Regions from separate parts of the Homo sapiens genome. Here all the other regions are reported to be linked to region 4. The links are microRNA targets in miRTarBase. Many come from high-throughput screens and were not tested one by one. Region 4 holds a microRNA gene; each other region holds the end of a gene's coding sequence.
Evidence for each region. Region 4 holds the annotated microRNA hsa-miR-29c-3p (UAGCACCAUUUGAAAUCGGUUA, at 1,833-1,854, opposite strand). A microRNA usually pairs through its seed, bases 2 to 8, with sites in the 3' UTR of a target mRNA and lowers its output. Matches are read on the target gene's strand: a 7mer-m8 pairs with bases 2 to 8, a 7mer-A1 pairs with bases 2 to 7 and ends in A, and an 8mer does both.

Region 1 (4,084 bases), not on the chromosome of region 4:
CAGTCTTTGATTTTTCTGTGCCCCAAGTATTTGGCCTATGTCCAGACGAATTATTTTGCCTCAAGAAAGGAAAAGAGCAGAGTCTACTGTGTTTCCAGGGATCACTCATGATGTACATCAGGCCAAATTTTTTTTTTAAAAATTTATTGATATACTAAGAGATAACAAAAGGACAAAAATCTTCTGACGCCATTTGCTGTCCTTCCCCTGCAAAATAAATTAACATCAGTCTAAAAGAAGAAAAAACCCTGCAACCTATGCTAGTTTTCCAAAAATGCTAGAAAACCCACAGAATCATGAGATGCACTTGAGTAAAATCTGGTCATGTAGGCACTACCTGTTCCCAACTCACCATTCCCCTTCCCCACACCATCAGGGGCTTTTTGGGGGAAGCATTTCCTTAAACTGGTTGATCCTAATTAAATGTGGGCCCTAGGCTGCTGTCCTGTTTCAACAGAGATCCTTTCCTAGGGCAATAACATATCTACTTTTGTTCTCTTTTAAGAAAGCAAACAGCCATAGTTGAAAGCAATTAGAAGTGGCATACATGAATGATTTTTTTTTTAATTAAAAAACACAAATCAAGCCAGTGATTGGCTTTGGTTCAAAGCTTGATCCTCCCCTGAAGTCTCCCCTTAGTGAAAGCTCTCGGCCCAGAGCCCTCTCCAGCTAGGTCAGAATTTCGAGTGTAACCAAAACAAGGAACACTCTTTTTTGGTACAAAATATATACATATAAAAATATGCTAACATCTCTAAGGAAGACAGACTGGCCACTGCTTCCTATTCAATACAGGAGCAAACAAAACGCGGTTAACACACCATTTCACACACACACCATTGCCACAGTTCCTGCGGGACCTTCGGGAAAAAAGCAACAATGCATCGTCAGAAGTGCCAGATACCTAGCTACACAAACACAAACACACACACAAATAGCAGCAAATAAAAATAGAAAAAGTCTACTTTTATTTATTGGTAAACATAAGACAACCAAGTCTGAGCATCTGGTGCAGTTCCCAGTGACGGCACTTGCCCTGCACACGCTCTTGAAGCACCAGGAAAAACACACAACACAGTAAGAAGGCAAAGTGGCTGGGAGTAAGGTATCTGCAGATTCAAACTTTGGGATTGAAGTAGCTGGTAAACAGAAAGGCACCGAATCAGGGTCTGGAGAGACCCGGCTGCTGGGGAGGAATCTGGCCTGCCCAGGCAGACAGGGACAGACATCCTCATTTCTCCAACAGCTCCTGGAAGCCGAGTCACCCCAAGGGCTTGGAGAGCTGTTAGTCTGGCTTTGGAGCAGTGAAGGTAGCACAGTGCTCAGCAGGAAGGAGTCAAGACTTTGCTGTCGAGCACAGGGAGGCTGGTGCCTGAGGCTCAGCGTGCCAGGATCCACGCCTCCTCCCAGGCTGCGCAGTGAGCTGGAATCTCTCCCTCTCCTGTGGGAGCAGCTCTTCCCCTTACTGTCTGCTTCCAGCTCTGGCCTAGCTATCTGGGACTCTTAGCCCTTCAATTCGCCGAGGTGGGCACCATTCCTGCTGCAGCCAATATGGCCACTGTGGGCTGGCCCCCAGCTGGCATATGGATGGCCCTCAACGAAGCCATGGACATGGGTCCCTCCCCAAAGGCACACTGTTAAAAAGATCCATTTGGCTACACCAAGGCCACCTCTTCCTATTTGGCACGGTGAGGTACTGGGGGGTCTTGCAGTCTGGTACGCCTGCCCCCCGCAAACCAGAGCCCATTCTCAAAGTCCGGGCTGCTCCATGGAATCAGGAGTGCCTCCCTATAGTCAGGCACTGGAATGTAGCCCCATGCCTGCTGGCGGACTCCATCCAATCAGAGGAACAGAAAGCACCCACCCCACCCTCTTTTATTTTTGGCATCACAAAGACCTAGTGACCAGATTGCCTGCCGCTGCCACCTCTGGGCTGCCCTGCCTTGCTGCCCACGCTGCTCTCAGAACAGAAATCCTGATACTGGTCAGAAGCCATACAAGCTAGCTCCCAGACGTGACCACCTAGAGGCAGCTCACAGTCTTGAGTTAACAGGGGCCTCAGGGCCGAGGCTGACAGATCCAGCTTCCCGGGACCCTCTACCAGGCGGGCCCCCTAGACTTTGTCCAGCTTCCCCAATGGCACAGGTCTAGTTTTTCAGCTGGAAAGGAGCCAAGCAGGGAACCCCTAAAGGTGATGGGGATTGTCAGGGAAAATGATACTCCTCAAGGAATGCCTCATCCACTTGGGCAGGGCCCCACACAGGACGTAGGGAGTTGTTGGCTGGACCCACGGCCAACACTTGCAGCACAGGCAGAGCCGGCAGACGGGCCCATGGACACCCAAGTGCCAGCACTGCTGTCCTCCAGGTCTCCGGGGCAGTCTGTGGGCCATAATTAGAATGAAGCCAGTCCTTTACTAGCAGAAGGTAGGTCCTGGGAGTGAAGGGAGGGGCTTGCCTGCCAAGGGTCCTGCCCACTGGACTCCCCTGGACCTGAGCACCTCCACTTTGGGTTTTCCTTGGGACACACTGAACTCTGGGCTTTTTAGAAATGGAACATGCTTCAGTGGGCCTGGGGCAGGAGGTGGGTCTGGGTTTGGAAGGGGACTCAGGTCAGTTCTCACTGGGACACAGGCAGGAGGGAGGGTGGCAGCCATAGCCTGCCTCTCCTGCTCCGAGGCACGGAGGCTCTTCAGGTGGAACCCAGCTGTGGGACCACCCCCGCCCCACCCACGCTGGCTTGTGGGCTATGGATGCTGCCCTGAACTGGGGCTAGATGGCCATGAAGGCAGCCTTTTAGGGCTGCTGGGCTCGCTCTACTCCAGCTGCCTGCCACTGTCTTTTCACATTAAGGCCCCAGCCAGCCCCCACCTGTCAAGGGCAAGCTCCCCACTTCATCACTGCCGGCTCAGGCAATGCCAGCCAGGACCACCCCTGCCCACCCCATCTCCCAAAAGCTGTGGCCAGATGGAGGGAACACTAGTCCCACTGGCCATGCCTCCCCACAATACTCTCTGCCCACTCCAGGGCTGAAGGCAAGGTGGGCCAGAAGTCCCCTCCTGACACCTCAGCCCCTGCAAGACAGGGACCAAAGCTGTGATTCAGTCACGCAGGCCAGGGAGGAGCAGTTCAAACTCAGCAACAACGCAGCCATGAAGAAGCCCGCTCTGTTCAAGACAGTCACCTGGAGCCACAGGTGCCACCGGGTTTCCTGAGGCAAGAGGGGAGAGCAAAGAGGCCTGCAGAGGTAGGAACAAGGTGGAGACCAACAAGGCAGTGAGGCCCCCTGCCCTATGTCCTGGGACAGAGTGGGGTGCGGGAGAAGTCCCTTCCAAGCCTGCCCATCAAGGAGGCCACCCACTCCTCCTCCCCCGACCCAGACTCTTGAGGGGGCTTGGGCTGGGAGTCACTTAGCCAAGCGACACCATAGGCAGGGAAGGGGAGTAAGACCGCGCAGCTGGTGGCGCCGGGGCTTCAGTAATGCCTCAGGTTGAAGAAGCCCACGCTGGTGGGAGACTCCTTCACTGTGACGGTGATGAGGTTGGCAGTGACGTCGGTGACAAATACGTGCTCGATGAGGCTGCGGGTGGGCTTCCAGTCCTGGCTGGTCTGAACGGACACTGACGGGTTCTGTCCAGTGCTGGGCGGCGAGGCGGAGTCGGGGTCGGAGTCCGAGCTGCTACTCTCCTCACCTGCGCTCATCTCTGGCAGTGTGGCCGCCTTGCGGGCTTCTCCGGGGGCTGTGCGGCTCTCCTGCCCACTGGGGGTAGCACTGCCCTTGACACAGTCCCTCTTGCTGGCAGGGGTGGGTGGCGCCACTGCTCTGGAAGCCAGCTTCTCACTTTTGCTTGTGTCGGTGGGCATGGTGGCCCCGCTGGCCCCAATGAGGCCACTCCCAGTGCCCTTCCCAGGGGCTGGGTTGGTGGCCGGGACACCCTTGGTGGCGGTGGCGTGGCGGGCAAGGAGACCCACCCCGGGCATGCCATTCTTGACACTCTGCAAGTCCAAGACCTGGAGGCTCAGCTCCTGGGTGGGTGCTGGCTGGGGGCCTGGGCACCCAGCAGGCACCCTGCTGGCACCATGGG
Region 2 (4,091 bases), not on the chromosome of region 4:
AAAAGTGGTAAACTGAGGAAAAAGGGTAACATGAAGATAAATGAGACGAGAGAGGACATGGATGCACAGTTGTTAGAACAACAAAGCACGAACTCAAGTGAATTTGAGGCTCCATCCCTCAGTGACAGTATGCCTTCTGTAGCAGATTCTCACTCTAGTCATTTTTCTGAATTTAGTTGTTCTGACCTAGAAAGCATGAAAACTTCTTGTAGTCATGGTTCCAGTGATTATCACACCCGCTTTGCTACTGTTAACATTCTTCCTGAGGTAGAAAATGACCGTCTGGAAAATTCCCCACATCAGTGTAGCATTTCTGTGGTTACCCAAACTGCTTCCTGTTCAGAAGTTTCACAGTTGAATCATATTGCTGAAGAACATGGTAACAATGGAATAAAACCTAATGTTGATTTATATTTTGGCGATGCACTAAAAGAAACAAATAACAACCACTCACATCAGACAATGGAATTAAAAGTTGCAATTCAGACTGAAATTTAGGCCCATAAATGCTGCAGAATAATTACCACTGTACAACCGTGTTTGGAGCTGGTTGAACTACATGTGACTACTTAAGTTTCAGGTTACCAGCAAAAGCCGGGTTTCATTATCATAATGCAGATACATTTTCTGTGTTCAGCAAGGCATTGTGTGTCATGTGGATCTTAGTTACCAAACTATGAAGTGAAGGCTTTAAAAGTGCATTATTTTAAGGATAATAAATTTGAAGAGCAAAGCATGTTTTGTGTGTTTGCCACAAAACATTGCTTGAAGCACATACTTAGATAGAAATTGGTCTTAATTTATATAATCAATATAAAATACTAATGCAATTCTACAGCATTCAAATGAAGAAAACTTGAGGCTTTAGGGATAAGTGGTTAGTGATATTTTATTGAAACCACTAAAGAGATAAGTTTAAAAGAACTGCATAGGTTACTCTCAGTATATGATACTCTGTAACATTTCTATTTATATCGGCATAAATTTCATTTTTTTTCTTCATATGCAATGTGGTTATATAAAGCTTAATGCAGCTCATTTGCTACCATTTGGATACTTAGACACTTTGAGCAAGATTGTGGCAGTTTTTGCACAACTTTGAAATAGAAATACCTGGTACTCTATCTTGTTTATTGTTGATGCCATCTTAGAGGAAAAAATGTAAAGGTAAGTAATTAAGCATATGACAGCAACAAATAAGATACATAAAACTACAAAATAAAGTCCCATTAGGTTATAAGTATTACAAAAAATCCACCTTTCTCTAAGGGGAAGTTTGTACCCCATTGATTCTTGGTGCCTTTGGGATCGACTGGGTTTTAATGGCCTAGTTATTTGAGGATTTTGCTGTGTTGTTTTCCATGTCTTCTCTGGTCACCTTGGATTATATATAAAAATACAGGAAATAGATAAACATGAATGTGATTAATAATGCTGAAAAAGTATTAGCCTACCAAAGACACACTCAGGCTTTAGTGAATAACTTTACATAACCTCAGTTTTTAACACATGCATATCTTCTCCAACCATGAAATCAAAGCACGGTGCAGAACTTGTACCAAGTACAAAAGGTCCATGTATGATTAGCATTATTTTCTTTTGCTTTTGTTTATGGACAATGTTCAGCTGACATAAGCAGAAGTTGGCCAAAATACTGCCTGTACTGTTAATTTCCTGTATAATTCACTTAAATAAAAGCAGGTTAACCTCAATGATAGCAGTTAAAATGTTCTATCTTATGTATTTCTTTTAAGTATTACCATTATGGTGCTACTGAGCGTTTTCTTTTGGTAAAAAGAAAAATGCCATGGGCTGCAGTCTTCTTCCATCACTTTTCCCTACCAGGTCCATTAATATGCTTATAACACTAGTGCCAGTTATTTTATTTGATAATGCTTATGGTATTTGTATATTTGTTTGCATTCCAATTTTGTTTAATAATGAGTGTGTAAACTGCATACGTTAAATAAATGTAAATACTAATGTACTGCTGCCTTCTGGTGTGTACACAAGTGTTTTTTTTTAATAAGAATGAGAATATTCATTGGCCATGTGGTAGTATTCATAAATATTGCAAGCCATTGTGATTATTCTGCCTTCTGGTCTCAGCTCAAGGGGAAGCATTTGCTGAACTTTTCAACAGTGTTAGAAACTACCCTTTTTTCCTGTCTAATTCCTGCCTTTCCACCAGAAAAAAAGATACTGTATACATCAACATAATTTTTTTGAGTAAATTGGTTGAATTTAACTTGAGTAAATATATGTATCATTAAATTGTGAAGAGAAATCAGTATTATAAATCCTCAGAAAAGTGGAAAGATCAGCTAACTTGGGAAAAGGGGAAAAAAGTAAAAAGATCTTAAAAGACTATTTTAAGAGATTCTATTCTAGCAACATTAGATTATGAAATGAGCCATTTAAATTCAAGCTAATTGTAATCAGATGCTTTCTATTCTTGTAGCTTCTGTAAAATGCATAGATGGTTTTTCTGTTTCCCTGGTATATAGTTAATGCTTCATGAAAATAATCTTTTTTTTTTTTTGAGATGGAGTCTCACTTTGTAGCCCAAGCCTCGAGTGCAGTGGTGCGATCTCAGCTCACTGCAACCTCCGCCTCCTGGGCTCAAGCAGTTCTCGTGCCTCAGCCTCCCAAGTAGCTGGGATTACAGGCAAACATCACCACGCCCGGCTAATTTTTTTGTGTGTTTTAGTAGAGACGAGGTTTCGCCATGTTGCCCAGGGTGGTCACAAACTCCTGAGCTCAAGTGATCCACCCACCTCGGCCTCCCAAAGTCCTGGGATTACTGGCGTGAACCACCATGCTCGGCCAAAATAATCTTATGAATATGTTGACTGCCTTGTTGACATTTCTTTAAAAGGCTAAAGATGAAATGGAAAGCTAAATGATCTTCAGAGGAATACAGCAAAAATAGTGCCCTATAGGAGGCTGGTGCATTCATTCACCCTACACCTACTTCTGGTGATACTCCCAACCAGTACCACTTCAGTCTCACCTTAAAACTAGCTTCAAAAATTCCTTGTCTCCTGGACCTTTCAACTAGCTTCAGAAATTCCTTGTCTCCTGTATCCTTCAAAGTTGGATTAATTTAGGACCAAGCCAGTTTTCCCTGGAACTCAACTCTGGGCTAGCCTTGAACAAGAGATACCTCCAGGGTATTCAAAATAAACCTTAACTCACTGAAATCTTGTTAAAACTCTTTGTACTTTAAAGCCTGTTGGAAAAATCATCTGGTAATGAGAGAAAAGAAATACAAAGATTATAATAGTATATCCTACTGTTGATTATGTAGACCACCAATTTAACTGGTAGATTCACTTCATTGTACAAATTCCCAGCTTCAGAGCACTTAATTAGTTAGCTTTTTATATTAAATGCACATAATCCACCACTCCTAACTTATTTTTCCTGGAAATTGTGTTAATTTGTAAACATGTAAGACTTTCCCTAGCCTGTTATTTAGGTAAACATATAGACAAATCACCAAAGGATAAAGTATGTGTTGAAAACTATCGGAGCTATTAATTGCTACATGACATGAGCAAAAGAAACTCCTGCTCCATAGATTGTTTTGCCTTTCCATTCACAGTCATCACGCTTCTTACAGATTCTAGTCTGTACTTGGATCTAAGGAAAAAAATTCTTTTCTCAAGGCTGCATTTCATATGGTTCCTTTTAATGGATTTGTTGTTTCATTTATTTCCTTCACTAGAGCATGAGATATCATTGCTTAACAGCCAGTGTTTACATACTGGTTGATTTTTGAATGCCAAAAATAGTATTCTAAACTTGGGGAGAGTTATGTTATTTAGGGTGGCTATTATTTAATAGCTGGATATGAAAAAGTTTGCAGTTTTAAAATTTAGTTCAGATTGGATCACTGTACATCATATGCTAGTCAGAATTTTTGTGACTTCTACCAATTTATTCGTTCAACAAAGTAGATGCTGGAAATACAGCATAGTACCAAATAAACAAACACCCTGGCTTCAGAGGGCTTGTATTAGAATTTGGAGGATACAAAAATAATAAACATATGCATGTAGCTTAAAATAATGGAACGAGATGTAAAA
Region 3 (4,091 bases), not on the chromosome of region 4:
ATTAGTAATATACAGTATTATTCCTATCAAATTTTTTTCTCATAAGTTATATTTATAACAAAACTATAATTAAAATATTTTTTATACCTGCTTATTCCATATCCAGGGACACAGCGGGAACATTTATGTGTCTGATGGTTTGGCATCCACTTTATTGTGCTTACTGATTTTTGTGATGAACAAGCAGCACGTATCATATCTTTCCAACATTCAAGGTAATGGAACAATGACATAAAATTCTCCAAAGAAATAACTGGAAATTGCATTAAATACTGCTTTAATTAGGCATAATTGCTATAATAAAACAAATAACATTATACATTTTTTTTTCAATAAGCTTCAGTTTGAGGAACTGAATAGTAGAAACAGATCTTAAGATTTGAGTCATGGTAAAACCAGTAATTCTTTGAAATCTGGGAGGTGCAAAACGACAGCCACAGCCAACCCTCACCAAAATCCTGGAGAAAAACATTTTATTAATTTAGGGGAACAAGATAGAACACTGGTGAAGATACGGCTTGTTGAGGTCTAAAGCCACCTGAGAAGCTGGCCCAAGGAATGAAGAGAACCAATGGTATGTACTGGTGGCAGATAACAAGCTTTGCACTGGGCTGACCAACTGTGTTTTATTAAATGGCTTTGAATAAAAAAAAGTGAAGTGCTTCATTGTGTTTTCTCAGAAACTAATCAAAAGATTACAGAGTCCTACACAATTTGGAGACACAAAGTGGATGCTGAGCGACTAGAGGTCACTCCAGGTGTGGAATTTTAGAAAGTGAGTCCTTGGAGTAAATGGCACCGTGGCTCTGGCAGCAGATAGAAAGGAATGATGCTCTGGAGAGGAGGTAGGGACACTCTGCGGTCGGCCAGTGGATACATGAGGGGCCCGGCTGGAAGTGGGATCTGTAATTAGAGGGAGAAGTAAAGGTTTGATAGAGATCCTGAAAATAACTTGTAAAACCATTTTTCTTCCATCAACTGATATCAGCTTATAACATGTGGTCTATGTTCTACTAACCTAGAATTTTATCTACTAAAATATCTTGGTACCATTTGTCTAAATGAGTCTACAGCTCAATAGTCTACAAATCTAAGTCCTATATATTCAGATCTCTGACCAAGCACATCACCATGGAGCCACGCTGCCTTGACTGCTGTCTACTAGCTGTTTGTCCTTGGGCCAGCAACTTAAGTTCTCTCTGCCTCGGCTTCCTCATCTGAAAAACAGGGATAACAATATCTACCTCATAGGGTTGTTGTGATGATTAAAATTAAGCATTTAGAATAGTGCTGGCACAGATGTGCCAACAAACATTAGCTGTTTTTATTATCACTAGTTGTGATGGAATAATCATGTATTCCATTTTATATAAAGATGGCAATCTTAATCCAGAGAGAAAACACCAGTGCATGTAACAATAACAATGTGATAATAAAGATATATGCAAGATATTATAAAAATTAAGCTTAAAGAAAGGCATTTTTGTTTAAAGCTCCTTTTAAAAATAAAGGCCATCCTCATGTTTGTGTAGTCTTTTGTTAAGTCACTAATTCCCACATATTGCTTCAAATTGCAGACACCTTGCAGACTGAAGAAAAATGGAAGAATTGAATAAATTATGCTTAGAGTTTCCTCCCCTTCTCTAAGATCTCAGCTCACATTGCATCCTGGACCTTGGGAACACCCAAATCCCAAAACGAAATTGTGTTGAACAAAAATATCTGCATTCATGAAAGAGGGTATCCAGAAGTTATTAATGTAAATCTTTCCCATTTCAAAATTCTAGTTATTTGAATATTGATAGATTAGCCTCTGGTGTGTAATTGCTCAAACCTCACACATCAGAAAAACACATGATTACACAATAGCTGCAAAATGAGTCATGACAAATGGGCTGTGCCAAGTCATCGCAGCTGCAACTGATATACAAACCATGGCATGGAACAAAAGCCACACAGAAGGTTGCTGGTTGTTTGAGAAGTATCAGTTTGAAAATTGTACATGAGAAAGCGTATGGACAAGTAACACTAAGTATTCCAAAACAAAGCCTTTTTAAGGAAATACAACATATGGCAGAGGATAGATATCATGATTTAGATCTTTGGCTTTCAGGAATTCAGGTGACACATTCACTAGTGCTAAAGAAGGCAGCTCTGGAATGTTGCATGGCTTACAGGATTGAATAAATCATACAGGAGCAGACAAAATGTATTCTTTTTTAAAGTATTGAAAAAGAAGAGAAGGGGATAAACCTCTAGAATTATCTGATGAACTCTTCCCTTTCTCCATGTTCCTGCTGCTGCAAGTACTGAGAGGAAGTACGGTGTAAAAGACAGGGGTTTTATGATCAATCAGACTTGGGTTCATATCCCAATACTCGTTAACTGTGTGACTGTGAGAACATCATTTAATCTATTTGTATCCAAGTTTGCTCATCTATAAAATGGGGAAATACTTTGTAGGGTTCTTGTGAGATTCAGAAGTACCATTTGTACAATACCAGGCACATAGTACGTGCCCTCAAAATGGTAGCTGTTATTGATGTTGCCCTAGGAAGACATGTGTCTGCTTTGGTACATTCTGTGTCTGTGCTGTCTATTAATTAGTGACAGATACCTATAAGCACAGTCAACTAGAAAAGCGCAGCAGCAGAACACTTTCTGTAGGAAGACCACGTAACTAAAATTGGCAGAAATAGTGAAGTGCTACTTCCTGTCACTTAGAAGGCTATGCTAAAGTACTTAGGGCTTCAACGTGACTCTGCCTAGAGATTCTTAGTAGTATTAATTTGTTTCTTACTCATTAAAGGGCAGCATCTGGATATTTAAGGACATTAATACTTTAAACAAAGGAATGAAATTTATGTTTCTACTCAGTAGGTAAGGTTTCTTCCACAGGGGTCTGAAGCCACTTAAACATAATAAATGAAATATTCAGAATCTCCCCACTCCCCTCTGAAATGTTCCTTTGCTTATTAAAGCCATTTGTCATATAGGTAGACATCTCTGAACTCATTCTTATATGCAAAACCCAAGTATTTATATGTCTAGGATAGTTTTGAAATATTAAAACAAGCCAAGTAACTGCCATCCCCCATTCCCCCACCAAAGTAACAACAAAACCAGTCTGAACACAATACAGCAGGAAAAAAAATCAGAATTAAATTCTCTATCACCAAATAGAACTTGGGCCGAATACACATTTTAAATATCAAGCTAATACAGTGACTAGCTTAAGCTAACACAGCAAATATACTGTTATTTAACTGCGTGATTTAATGATTTATTTACCATGCGGGGAAGAATATTCATGCATCCTCTAAACTTGCAAAAGCTGCATACAAGCCATATCATTTCATATTTACCTTTAATTCTTCGGTTTATCTTCCACTGCTCATGCCTCTGTCTTCATAAATGGTAATTTCAATCTAAACAGCATGGCTGTTAAGAAAACACACTACAGGACACAACACACAAAGGGGGACTTGGCAAGGTGGAGGGTGTGATCTGCAGACTTTGCTTTCAGTTTGCTTTATTTTTCAATTATTAAACATTTTTCCTACTTAAGTTTGCTTTCTCCAATTTGCTGAAAATTTTAAGAAATGTAATTATAGTAGTCCACATGTAGTTCCTTCCCAAACACTGATAACTTATGTTTTGAAAACAAAACAAATAAATTCTGAAAACGATGCTTTATTTGTTGAACTAGGGAGTTCTTAACTGAGAATCCATGGAGGTAATGAATTCAGGGATTTAAAAATACCCTGAAATTATATGAAAACTTTTTTCTTGGGAAAGGGTTCATGACCCCTGAAAGTTTAAGAACTATTGTTGCAGAGTATAACAAAACTGCTGAAATTATTATCAGCTGGAAGGCCTGGGATTATGTGACCTAGGTTTTTAAAAAAATTTATTTACCCATTACTCCAGTTATCAAGCTAAATTAGTTTTTTGCAATTTTATTTACCAAATTCACTTAGTGATTTTCAAAGCTTACTGCCTCTAAAAATATGCACAGTATGTCAAAGGTAATGAAATTACACATCTGGCAGCTGTAACTGATTTCAACTAGTCAGATAAACCCATGAAAC
Region 4 (4,091 bases):
TTTATAGAAAAGACGTCTCAAATCATTGTTTTTGTGCTTTAATGCTGCACTCAATTTCACACTTACTCGTTTGAGGACTGGAATCAGGGCCTCCTGAGAGCAAAAATCTGTCGTCTGTATTTGCAACACCTAGGCTGGAGCTTTGAGCGTGGTGGGCGGATCAAAAACTGTTTAATTGGTAGGTAGTACAACAGACCCCAAAAATGTCTGACCTATAGGTATTTAATACTATTGTAGCCTATCTCAGTGGGAAGTGAACAAAACAATATAACTTAGGGTCTTAACTAACACCACCACTTAGGGTCTTCCCACCACATCCTGGGGATTAGAACATGGGTTCTTCCATCAACAGCCTGAAATAGCACTGCAGCTGCAGTGAGGGGGTGCAACATATGTACTGGCAAGTCTTCCCAGCAAATGCTACTTCCGCCCCCCACTCTCAGCCCACTGGGCAGGGCAGCCATCTAGAGGAAGACTGTGGCAGGGGGTTGGGCTTAGAAATGGCTTCCTAGGTGGCTGATTTGCCATCATTTATTGCAAGCCACTGGCTTAAAAGAGTTCTACTGAGGGTAGTTCATAGTCATGCACCTCCTGTGCAAAAAGCCTGATCAAGGGGCCACAGCCCGCCTTCCTGAAGATCCTACAAGCTTGATCCCCTATCAAATCAAATCTGGCTAATCTCTGAATAGCTTTACAAAACTGGCTCACTGGGCCAGGCGAGGTGGTTCACGCCTGTAATCCCAGCACTTTGGGAGGCTGAGGTGGGTGGATCACGGGGTCAGCAGTTCGAGACAAGCCTGGCCAACATGATGAAACCCCGTCTCTACTACAAAATACAGAAATTAGCTGGGCGTGGAGGTGCCACGCCTGTAATCCCAGCTACTCGGAAGGCTGAGGCAGAATTGCTTGAACCCGGGAGGCGGAGGTTGCAGTGAGCGGGGACAGTGCCATTGCACTCCAGCCTGGGTGACAGGGTGAGACTCCGTCTAAAACAAACAAACAAACAAAAAAAAAAAACAAAAAAAAACTGGCTCATCTTGTTTTGAAGTGTTGACATAAACTAATAGTCAAAAGCACCACTCAATCTTTTATAATGCAAGTGAAATCAGTGCTGTGCCCCTTCAAGGAACCATGTGACAGTATGTTTAGTTGAGCACCAGTTCCTTGCAGGAACAGTTGCTGGCAGAAGGGCTGTGTCTACAGCCCATGTGGAACTAAGGAGTTTTCCCATTCAGTAGGGAGCATCCCTCAGCCTTGATCTTCAACATTTCTTCTCTTCCCTAATCTTTTCTCTCATTTTATTTCTTGGCTCATAGAATTTCATTCTTCTCTTAATGGGCTTCATTTTTAATGTCTGGCTGGCTGTAACCTACTTCAAATTCTTTATGAAGTAGGCAAGATCTGCACAGCCAATTAATTTTTCAGGACCCACTTCTTATCATCACAGAATTATGAATGGGAAATAATAGATGAAAAACACAGACATGATAAACTGAACATAGTATTTATTAAGGTCAGGATGCATGAATAGACTCTTCTCAACAGAAAGATAATTCAACAGCAATCAATTTACAGAATTTAGAACAGCACTACATTTCAGCAAAATGCAACTAGAGAACATCAGATAAATTATAGTAATTTGTTTTTAAAAATCCATTAAACTATCTCTTACCTCTGCAATAATGTATCATACATGCAGTTACAGAAGTTAGTAGGGAAAAGCATGATCTTCCTTCCCTATTCTCTGCCCATCCATCTTCCAGGAAACCACAGGCTGCTGCTGCCCAGAGTTGGCATGAGGCTTCGAGGCTGCTGCTTTTCCCCCTACATCATAACCGATTTCAAATGGTGCTAGACAAAAACAGACTCTGAACACCAGGAGAAATCGGTCAGCCTGTGTAAGAGATGGGCCAGTGGTGCTCCCAGGGTCTGCACCTCGACAGTCCAGGTGGCAAGTCTGATTTCGGGTGCCCCGCAATCAACGCCGAATACTCCAGGGCATCCTCTAAGAGCAGACTGATGGTGTCGATGTGGACAAAATGGTCCTCCAGGTGTACTGCCCTCTCCCCTGCCCCATGACAATCGACACCCAATACATTGTTATCCAACAGAATATGACAATCGCCACACTCAAAGGCCCTACGAACACATTCATGCTGGTGATGGCTGCTAGGAGTCAACAGAAATAGCATCACAACCTCTGCCCCTGCTCAAGCCACTGTGTTTATTTTAAACACAACCCCCTTCTCTACTGTCACCTCTCCCAAAACCCAACAAACTCAAGAGTGTATTTTGCTCTTCAAGTTCTTCCCTGGACTTCTCGAACAGACTCAAGTGGCAAGAGGAGAGGAGCCAGTTCCATGAGCAGCAGTTCCTCTGCAGTCCACCCTTGGCTGTGCTGCAATTCTTACTCCTAAAACACTGATTTCAAATGGTGCTAGATACAAAGATGGAAAAATCTAAGCCACCATGTGAAACCAGCTTCCAGAAGAAGAGGATCTCAATGAAGAAAGAAGGGAGATTCAATCGGAAGACCCAGCCTCTGCCCTGAGGAGAAATATCTTCTTGTAGTTCTACTTGTGATATGACACAGTGCTCCATGGGAAAGGCACAGAGGAGGTTACACAGGGCTGCACAAGGCAACATGAAAGGCACAGCTGATGCTTCAAATAGATGAGAGCAATACAAAACTCATTAATTCTAGGTTAATTCTATTTAACTTCACACCAGTCACTACAAATTATTATATATGATGAAATAAAAGCTAAAATTATTACTAAAATACATTAATATTTACATTTGTACTGCCCTGCATTTGTATAGTATTTCACAGTACACAAAGTGTTTCCAGATATATTCTCTTACTTCATCAGGACACAAGCACCCTATCTGCCTGTGGAATGAAGCTCCAGCTGCTACACAAAGGCGAGTCTCACCTGGGCCAGGACAACTCTTTTATGTGTCTTAACTTGAGAAAAGCATGCATTCCTCCTTCCCACCCCATATGTAAGTATCAGAACATTCAAATATGACCCCATGAACCTGCAATCTTATTTAACCCCGATGTGACTTCAAAAACTGGTACCCTATAATTGTATTAAGCAGATAATCCTCTAACGTAAGAATTGAGTTTTATTTTCAAAGTCTGCTTGAAAATAAGATTTGCACACTGTATTCCAAATTAGATTTCCCATCTCCTTACTGCATCATCTTTTTTGGTGGTTTGAAGCTAAGAAAATATGTGTATTTCCTCTGATACCATAACCAAGAGAAAAGAGACAGAGTAGACACTGTATATTTTAGCTTCCTTTCAGGCCTCTAGATACAGCCTTATAATTTTTATGGTTCCTGGCACTAACAGTATGTGTTGCTAGAAGGAGAAGAAATAGAATTTGAACATCAAAAGTTGCGGTGTTTAATTCTCACAACAGTCGTATGGGGCAGGTATTATTCCAATTTTTGCGAAGAAATTCATCCTTAATGAGGCTAAATAACTTGTCTGCAGTCACACAACCAATCAATGCAGATCCCAGGTCTAACTCCAAAGACTGTGTTTCTGCCCTTGTATCCACTGCAGCCTGCTCCATAACTTGACTATCATCTCATTTTGTTCTTGAACTTCATTAAGAACAAAACAGGGTGGGTGGGGCAGGAAATTCCTAGGCGATACTTCTGCACTGAATGGGATCATACTGACTACATAACACGTTATACTTAGGGGGAGACAGGAGCATCATCTGGGTTCTGCGAAAGCCGGGTGGTCTGGGGCAGCTTGCTTTGTTCTCCTGCTCCTCTAGCGCCTTTGCCGTCTTTCCCCAGCATGTGGCTGTGGGAAAGACACTGAAGATGAACCTGCAACAAGCGATTCTGACACCAGCGCTAGGCTCTACAGCCCACGGGGGACTTGCTAGCCTCAGTCACAGGTGGGAGAGCTGGGGCAGATCTGCACACAAGGGCTCTCAGTGATGACACCTGTAGCCAACACCTGGGGCTTGTTAACCAGGTAACAGCCAGGGTTGTAAGGTCAGGAGTGAGTGTTTAAGGACAGTTACTACTGGGAGTCCAAATCCTGTCAAATGAGGGGATTTGAT
Region 5 (4,091 bases), not on the chromosome of region 4:
GTCTTTCTGGAAAAACATCCAGCATATACAGCAACTTGAGGAACAAATACTGTTGATTAATGACAAGGCCTTATAATCTCCTGGGTGCAGTGAAATAAATTCCACAAATATAAAGAAAGCATTTTAAACAGCACTCTTCTCAAATTATGAATTCTTCCTATATGCAATTTCCAACATGAATTAAGTGATCAGACTGTATTCAGAATACACCAAAAAAGCAAACTGAGACCTTGGTATATATGTTTAAATTTTAATACTCAAGAAAACAAACCTAAGTTAAAATTGGATACAAATACTGCTGGCATAAGAAAATATACACAAATTTGGATTCAAATGGGGTTATTATGTGAACCTGGATGTAAGACTACATCCTAACAACCTGTTGTTGAAGCCTTTTAATAAAGTAACAGATTTTAAATCAGATAGATATAAAAAGACTGAAGAAAAACAGTAACTTTTCCTTAAGTTCTCTTATCCATAAAGAATGACAAACTCCATATGGACAGTAAAGTTAGAGGTCATCCAATTTACCAAGGCATTTTGAACACATAAACCTTAAATACCTACTTTAAGCCCAAACAAGGTAAAAATAATCGGCATTTCATTGTGCTCCGAAGTTTAATTTTACATATCATGTTAACAAATTATAGAAAATAAAATAAAAGCATTTTCCATTTTTTTGAAAGTACACATCATTACTTCTCCCAGGTACTTCAGTAATTTAAGCTTAATACTCGTTTTATTAAACATTAAACACAAAAAAGAATTTACAAAATCTTGCACTGTTATTAAGAAGAGATGGAAAGTTCTCCCAACTTCAGCAATGTTAAGAGCTGTTTTTAAATTGTGAAAATGAATAGAAACACTAGCTCTTTAGGAGAATTTCAAAATACATCTGAAGAAACTAATTGTCTTTCGGATATTGTTTATTCAAACAAAACTTTTCGCTGGGTGTGATGGCTCATGCCTGTAATCCCAGCGCTTTGGGAGGCTGAGGCAGGTGGATCACCTGAGGTCAGGAGTTTGAGATCAGCCTGGCCGACATGGTGAAACCCCCATCTCTACTGAAAATACAAAAAAATTAGCTGGGCCTGGTGGTGGATGCCTGTAATCCCAACCACTCAGGAGGCTGAGGCAGCAGAATCACTTGAACCCAGGAGGCAGAGGTTGCAATGAGCTGAGATTGTGCCACTGCACTCCAGTCTGGGCAACAAGAGTGAAACTCCGTCTCAAAAAAGGAAAAAAACAAAACAAAACAAAACAACATTAAAAAAACACTTTTATTTTGGAAGGGTAAGCTATATATAAATAAAAATTCATTCAACATGAATGTAATTGGAGAAATTCCCTACTGCTGAAAAATAGTAATGTATAAACTGACTTCCAATTATTCAAATAAACCTTTTTCTTTTCTTTTTCTTTTTTTTTTTTTTTGAGACAGAGTCTCACTCTGTTGCCCAGGCTGGAGTGCAGTGGCGCAATCTTGGCTCACTGCAACCTCTGCCTCCCGGGTTCAAGCGATCCTCCTGCCTCAGCCTCCTGAGTAGCTGAGATTATAGGCATGTGCCACCATGCCCGGCTAATTTTGTATTTTTAGTAGAGAAGAGGTTTCACCATGTTGGTCAGGCTGATTTCGAACTCCTGACTTCGTGATCTGCCCAACTTGGCTTCCCAAAATGCTGGGATTGCCTGGCCTCAAATAAACAATTCTTTGGCTAATTCTGGAATTTGTGTCAGATGCCTGTGGGATACTTTTATTCCTGATCACATTTAACACAAAACTTAGTGTTTATATACTGTAAACAACATAAATTACATATTGTAAAATCTACTAGGATTCATAAATTGCCTACAATTCCATTTACTTTTTGCTTTCTTTTAAGTTCTAAAAGTTACTGATAAAGAAGTGTTACTTGGTTTTATAAGGGAATACTTGATGATAAAATTCTTCCTGTCTGAAAAGATGCACTAAATATTTCTGATCACTAAAAAGTAAAGCTTCTATCACCTCTTGAACATTGACTTCACTTTCCAAAGATGTATATATCATCTCTCTCAATGCCCAAGTCAATAGTCGAGTTAAACCAAGTATTTGGTGACTGTCTCTTTAAAGAAGAGAAGCATCACTTCTTCCAAAAACTAGCTTGCACACATCTTTGATTTTATCTGTACTCTTCAGGCAAAAGGTCATTTATCTTCATAGAAAGTTTTCTTGCTTTGTAATCTATAGAACACTAGTCGCCAGCTTAAAATGCTTATTCTATGATTGTACATTTGTGTAAACTATTATTTTTTTCTTCAGAAAACACATTTTAGTTTAAAACAGAGAAACACAAACCTGAATACTGAATAACCTAAGATAATTGGCAATACTGTGAAGTTTTAAAAGCACTCTTAAAACTTCTCAAAGTTCATTAATAATTTTTAAAGTCACCATCCCTTAAAAATAAATTATTTACAAGTATCACCTTAGGTTGATGGAGTTTATGCAGTCATTACATGATCAGGATATGCTTGAGAGACTGTGCCTACAGTGCAGAAAACCTTGAACATATCCTGTCTACTTGCCATTGGAAAACTGAAGGCAGCATAACTTTATTAAAGAAAAGTAACCTAATTGGAAGAAATTAATTAAAATTGGTATTGTGCTATCTAGAGAAAAATAATTTCATGATAGAATTTTTACATAGCATAACTCTAAAATTATTTTAACATCATCTTAATTTTAAAGTTGTTAAAACATAATTCTGATGTTTCACATTATTTTAATGTAAAATGTCAGGTCTGCACTCACAGGAAATTACATTATAAAAAATTATTTTTAATATGCTAAAAGCTACTAAATCAGCTTCCCCTGTCACATTGCACAACATGTGAAACATAAGGTGTCTACGTTTTTATAGATAATATAAAAAATTGTTTACAAAATTTGTTTATATTTCAGTAAGTTAATTTGTTGGATTTTTTTTAACCAAAAATATTGGTGACAAAATATTACCAATGTAAATATAAGCCACATGAAACAATCAGTTCCTTCCAATTTGGAAAGCTTAAAAAAATAAATAATAAGAATTCTACCTAACACAGAATAATGCCAAGCTAGTCAGCAGCAGCCATGACTTAGCACTGTTGGATCAGGCAATCCTGATCAGAAAATTAAATTAGGTGCCTTTTGTAGGACAAGTGCCAAACTGTTGCTTTTTTTTTTTTAACCAAAATGCAATTAACTAATAGTAAGAGCACCACCGTTGATATTAGCAGGTATATGAACTCCATATTTAATACATATTCAAAAATAGAGCAACTATTGTTAAAATTCTTGTAGTGTTAAATAACTTTTACATTTCCTGCAAAAGGCAGATGTTAACAAAGATGCTATAGACTGAAAATCATATACATGTCTATTATTAATAAAAACCTTGCAGTGATTTTACAACTGTTTGCTTCAGAAGGGCTCTTTCCAGTGAATTCAGATATGTGAATTCTGATGAACCCTTTCCTCATCCCAGCCTCCATCCTCACTATCCTTAGTGTCTGCACCTATTTAGACAGACACAAATAGGAGAAACTTTTAAGATGTGAAGCTAACACATTCATTCTTCCTTTTCTCTTTTTTTATAATGAGTATGTATTTATTTTCTAGGTTTCTTACTTCCAGTCATGACAAAATAATGGTCATCATCTTCCTTTTTCTTTGCAGTAGGTTTTTTATCTCCACTATCTGCATCCTTAACAGATGAGGGTGGTTTCCTGATTGAAGCTGGGGTTTTGCCACTTCTGGGAGGCCCTTTAGTTGAATGCTGGCTCTTAGCGACAGTCTGTGCTGACTTCGGTGCAGTTTGTGTTTTGGTAGAAGACTGGGGTAGGCTCACGATGGACAGTGGGGTACGGCCAGGAGACTTCAAGGAGCTGGGTCCTGTCTTCTGAAATGCACTTTTATTCTGAGGCTGCTTTTTGGTAGCTGAAACTATATTCTTATCTTTTGATTTCTGTGTGGCTTTTACAGGAGAAACTGAGGACACAGAAACTGGCTGATTTAAATTCAAGGCCGATTTAAGTTTCTGTGCTGGGACTGGCTTTGCTTGTGGGGC
Region 6 (4,091 bases), not on the chromosome of region 4:
ACCTGTCCACAGAAACGGTGATTCATGTCTACTTTTCTTTGTTTGCATATTTCAGATTTGAATTTGGCCAGGAAACATCCCAAACTCTGAAGCTTGAAAATGCCTTGTATTTTGATCGAAAATACCTTTTTGCAAATTCCAAAACTTACTTCAATCTAGCTGTAGATGAAAAGGGCCTTTGGATTATCTATGCGTCAAGTGTGGACGGCTCGAGCATTCTTGTAGCACAACTGGATGAGAGGACATTCTCAGTGGTGCAACACGTCAATACCACGTACCCTAAATCCAAGGCTGGCAACGCCTTCATTGCCCGAGGAATCCTCTATGTCACAGACACCAAAGATATGAGGGTCACATTTGCCTTTGATTTGTTAGGAGGGAAACAGATCAATGCAAACTTTGATTTAAGAACTTCCCAGTCTGTTCTTGCCATGTTAGCATACAACATGAGAGATCAGCATTTATATTCATGGGAAGATGGCCATTTAATGCTTTATCCTGTGCAGTTTTTGTCAACTACCTTAAATCAGTGATGTGCTGCATTCGGCTCCCTTCAGCAAATTTCAGGGGTTTTCTGGGACCAGTTCTCCCCCAACAGGAAACTTGTTTTTTTAACGTCAGCCAGATATTTAGAAAATAACCTCAAAAGTGTTTATATGGTCAGTGAGCCCCGCTTAGTGAAATAGCAACAGATTGGAAGTTGAAATGGCTGAGATTTGGTGATCTCCCCACAGCTGGCTCTGCAAGTTACCTCTTTCTCCTTGGGCCTTAGTTTCCCCATTGGTAATCTGAATTGGCTAAGATGATTGGGGAGATTTTCTGTACCTGTAGGTAATTTGGTGATTCTTGGTGGCTGCTCTTCTCACAACTTTTATGTATCTGCTTCTGTCGTTTAGCTTTTTTAGCCACATGCTGACCAAATTTACCTTTGAGTTGATAAGTCCAGTGGCTTGAGTAGTGAATCCCTCAGTGCTGACTTATATCTTGTTCTTTGAAAAAATGCATTGACTCTTTAAGACATCTAAAGTATCACATTATCCATAATTTATTGCTTTTCTTTGCATCTGCACCTGCCACCACAGAATAACCATTACCCTCAGCTGCTGATTGGGCAGCTCTGAGATTAGCAAAAGCCAGGGACAGCTACATGTTCAGGTTTTTTTTTTTTTTTTTTTTTCAATAAGCTATTTTTTTTCTTTTCTTATTTTAAATAGAGAGAGAGTCTTGCTATGTTTCCCAGGCTGGTCTTGAACTCCTGGGGCTCAAGTGATCCTCCTGCCTTGGCCTCCCAAAATGCTGGATTACAGGCATGTGTGCCTGGCCCAGGTTTCTTAATAAAACAGAATCATGATCTTCCAGGTTCCCCCCAGTTTCTGATCATGTTGATTTGTAGCTGTGGATCATGAACACTGAATCCTCAGATCACTCTGACTTCTTATGCTTCTCCTGTGGATCCACTATCAAAGTACTAAATGCTGTGTAAGTAGACGTTAATCTGGCTGGAACCATGGGAAGCACTTTGCAGTGTTCAGAAGAGAGGCTCCATTTGTGGCTATTATGTAGAACTGGGCCAGAGCCAGTCCATTGCCTGTTTTTTTAAATAAGGTTTTACTGAGCACAGCCACACTCATTTGTTTATGCAGTACGGCCTGACATTGCTTTTGCTCTGCAACAGCAGAGTCGAGTCATTGCAACAAAGAGCATATGGCCCCACAGTGCCTAAAATATTGACCAGCTACCCCTTTATGGAAAAAGATTGCTGACTCCTGATAAAGAATATAAAGTGAGCCTGATTCTTGAAAAAATCAGAACCAGAGCCTGTTTTGTTTTGTTCTAAACTAAGAAGCCGCATAGGATGTGACTTGCGTTTTGAGTAGAGGGGAAGGCTGATAACGGCGTAAGATGAAGTGGCCCTCCACAAAGGCTGGTTAGGGGACAGTTCTTTCTCTAACATAGTTTTAAAGGATGTGATCTGGTCCCCTTGGATGCCAGGAGAGAATCCAGTTGAACTTGCTCCTAAATGCTCTTAAATATGCATATTTTCTGCCAACTCACTTCTTTAAACATCTTTCAGCCCAGCGCTGCGGCCCCGGGAAGGGCCACTGCGAATAGAGAGGAAGCTGGAAAAGTTCCTGGGGCTCTGCAGCCAGGAAGGGGAACCAGGGCAAATCTTATGTAAAGATTTTTCAGCAACTTGTCCCAATTTGTGTGTATTCTGAAACTTTCTCTTTGGGACCAAATTCATTCTCAATGGCCCTGAGTTCAATATATTATTAACAGCAGTATTTTAAAACTTAGGGTTGAACTGGGCATGGTGGCACATAACTGCAATCCCAGCTACTTTGGAGGCAGGGATGGGAGGATCACTTGAGGCCAGGATCTCAGGACCAGCCTAGAGAGATCCCATCTCTAAAAAATAAAATATAAGAAAATAAAACTTAGGGGATATACAGATTTAAATATTCAAATCTCCCTGCTCCCCTGAAAGTCCCCAGGCAGCTGTCAATGACTTGTTTGTTGTGTTCTCAATATGATGGCTATTTGAAACTTCACCTACTTTTCATTAGATTGGTTGTACCATGTCACCTTAGCTTTTAAAAATACTCTTTTCAGATTCACGTTCTCTAACAAAGAGTCTCATGTTCAAGATCAATATGTCTAATAAGTGCTGGTGTCCTTTTAAAGTATTTAAATATATATGTTGCTGTTGCTGAATACAGGAGACCAGGTTAGGAATATAGTTTCATAATAATAGTACATACAATACTAATTGTATATAAGGTAGCAACCAAAAGAGGTTGTTAATTAGCACATATTCCTTTTAGAAAAATGTTTCAGAAACCTCAGTCTTGATATCTGAGCTATCTGGGCTCCCTTACTTGTGAGTAAGGGATCATGCTCACCACTGGAGAAGCTTACACCGGGACTTTTTTTCTTTTTTCTTTTTTTTTTGCTATGACAGAGTAATGCTAACGTAAGGACAACTGAGTTTGATCAGTGTTTAATCGCAGTGGGTAATCTTATCTGATTGTCTTTAAAAGTGAAAAGGATTAAGATTTTATTCTTTCTTGTAAACATTACTTGATTTTTTAAAGAAGTTTTGGGCTCACTGCTAAAATAGAGTATACAACTGAATGTTTTTAAGTCAAGATACTGTTTTAGGAGTTTACCCTCTCATTTATAACCAAAGTTGCTCTAAAACACTTTCCAAATATCTGCACTTCTGATGTCAGAATCAAACCAGATAATTCTCTAATTCTTCTTTAATCTAAAGTAGATAGCTTCCCACTGGAAAGTAAACAAAACCATCCCTCCCAACCTCAAAGCTAGGCCACACTCTATTTCAAGGCATTTTCTTTCAGCTGATAAGGTGTCCTCCTGAAGCCAAGTAGGTGGTTCTGGTCTCCAAGTATCGTTAAGCACAGGTGCTATGACAGAAAAAGTTCTGGGGTGGAAGTTTTAAGATGAGGAGTTCTGATCTTAGGCATCTTAACAGTCACAAGGTGAAAAGTCAAATGAAACAGTACAATTCTTGATGAGTGAGGTGTCATCTTCCAACCACACAGAGGACGTTTTGGCTATGATCATCTGATGGCAAGTGAAGGAGAAATGAGTGATAGGGCTTTGCGTTTTCATCCAGATGCTGTGGCCCTGTGTTTCACAGCATTAAGAGCCATAATTTCCAACCTGCACAGATCCTGAACAACAAATGAATAACGATGAATGTCTTTTTGGTTGTAATTTAACAAGTCAAATAAAATAATCATTGCTGAGCACAATCACATGTTGAAACAAGTGTGTTGTTATTTTTACCTCTTGTTAATGTATACGTAACATTTAAAAGAAAAAATCCAAAACAATATTGTGGTAGAATTATATTAGTTGCTCCTCTGTGGAAACTCAATTTGCTAGCTCCTTCTGAATACAGTACTGAAAAATTGTTGATATGGACTGTCTCTTCTCTATAAGAAAACATGAGCGATGGAAATCTAGTACTAGAACTGGGTTATACGTAGACATAAATGCAATCAAGCTTTGCCAATTCATCAGCATGGGCAAGGCAATTGAGGACATAATATTTGAGGCTAAAA

Region 1: miRTarBase lists CBX2 as a target of hsa-miR-29c-3p. Seed matches in the 3' UTR shown: 7mer-m8 at 1,053-1,059.
Region 2: miRTarBase lists RNF19A as a target of hsa-miR-29c-3p. Seed matches in the 3' UTR shown: 8mer at 1,766-1,773.
Region 3: miRTarBase lists GOLGA7 as a target of hsa-miR-29c-3p. The part of its 3' UTR that is shown has no 7-base or 8-base seed match.
Region 5: the mRNA of GAS2L3 is a reported target of hsa-miR-29c-3p. Seed matches in the 3' UTR shown: 7mer-m8 at 3,239-3,245.
Region 6: miRTarBase lists GLDN as a target of hsa-miR-29c-3p. Seed matches in the 3' UTR shown: 7mer-A1 at 3,425-3,431.

The regions. Positions count from the first base shown.
Region 1 is chr17:79,784,432-79,788,515 of GRCh38, reverse strand. It overlaps CBX2 (chromobox 2), which reads right to left. Exons shown (of 5, transcript NM_005189.3): 5 at 533-4,084. The coding sequence ends at 3,474. Among named protein-coding and RNA genes, the nearest start is that of CBX2, 8.3 kb to the right of the region's middle.
Region 2 is chr8:100,254,963-100,259,053 of GRCh38, reverse strand. It overlaps RNF19A (ring finger protein 19A, RBR E3 ubiquitin protein ligase), which reads left to right. Exons shown (of 10, transcript NM_183419.4): 10 at 1-1,987. The coding sequence ends at 498. Among named protein-coding and RNA genes, the nearest start is that of RNF19A, 53 kb to the left of the region's middle. RefSeq lists an enhancer at 323-422.
Region 3 is chr8:41,506,396-41,510,486 of GRCh38, reverse strand. It overlaps GOLGA7 (golgin A7), which reads right to left. Exons shown (of 5, transcript NM_001002296.2): 4 at 3,366-3,428; 5 at 1-903. The coding sequence ends at 3,381. Among named protein-coding and RNA genes, the nearest start is that of GOLGA7, 18 kb to the right of the region's middle.
Region 4 is chr1:207,800,033-207,804,123 of GRCh38, forward strand. It overlaps MIR29C (microRNA 29c), which reads right to left and starts at 1,907; the gene lies at 1,820-1,907. MIR29B2CHG (MIR29B2 and MIR29C host gene) reads right to left here. Exons shown (of 6, transcript NR_135299.1): 6 at 1,486-2,630. MIR29B2 (microRNA 29b-2) reads right to left here and starts at 2,491; the gene lies at 2,411-2,491.
Region 5 is chr12:100,624,432-100,628,522 of GRCh38, reverse strand. It overlaps GAS2L3 (growth arrest specific 2 like 3), which reads right to left. Exons shown (of 10, transcript NM_174942.3): 10 at 235-4,091. The coding sequence ends at 3,633. Among named protein-coding and RNA genes, the nearest start is that of GAS2L3, 53 kb to the right of the region's middle.
Region 6 is chr15:51,404,222-51,408,312 of GRCh38, forward strand. It overlaps GLDN (gliomedin), which reads left to right. Exons shown (of 10, transcript NM_181789.4): 10 at 56-3,779. The coding sequence ends at 533. Among named protein-coding and RNA genes, the nearest start is that of GLDN, 65 kb to the left of the region's middle.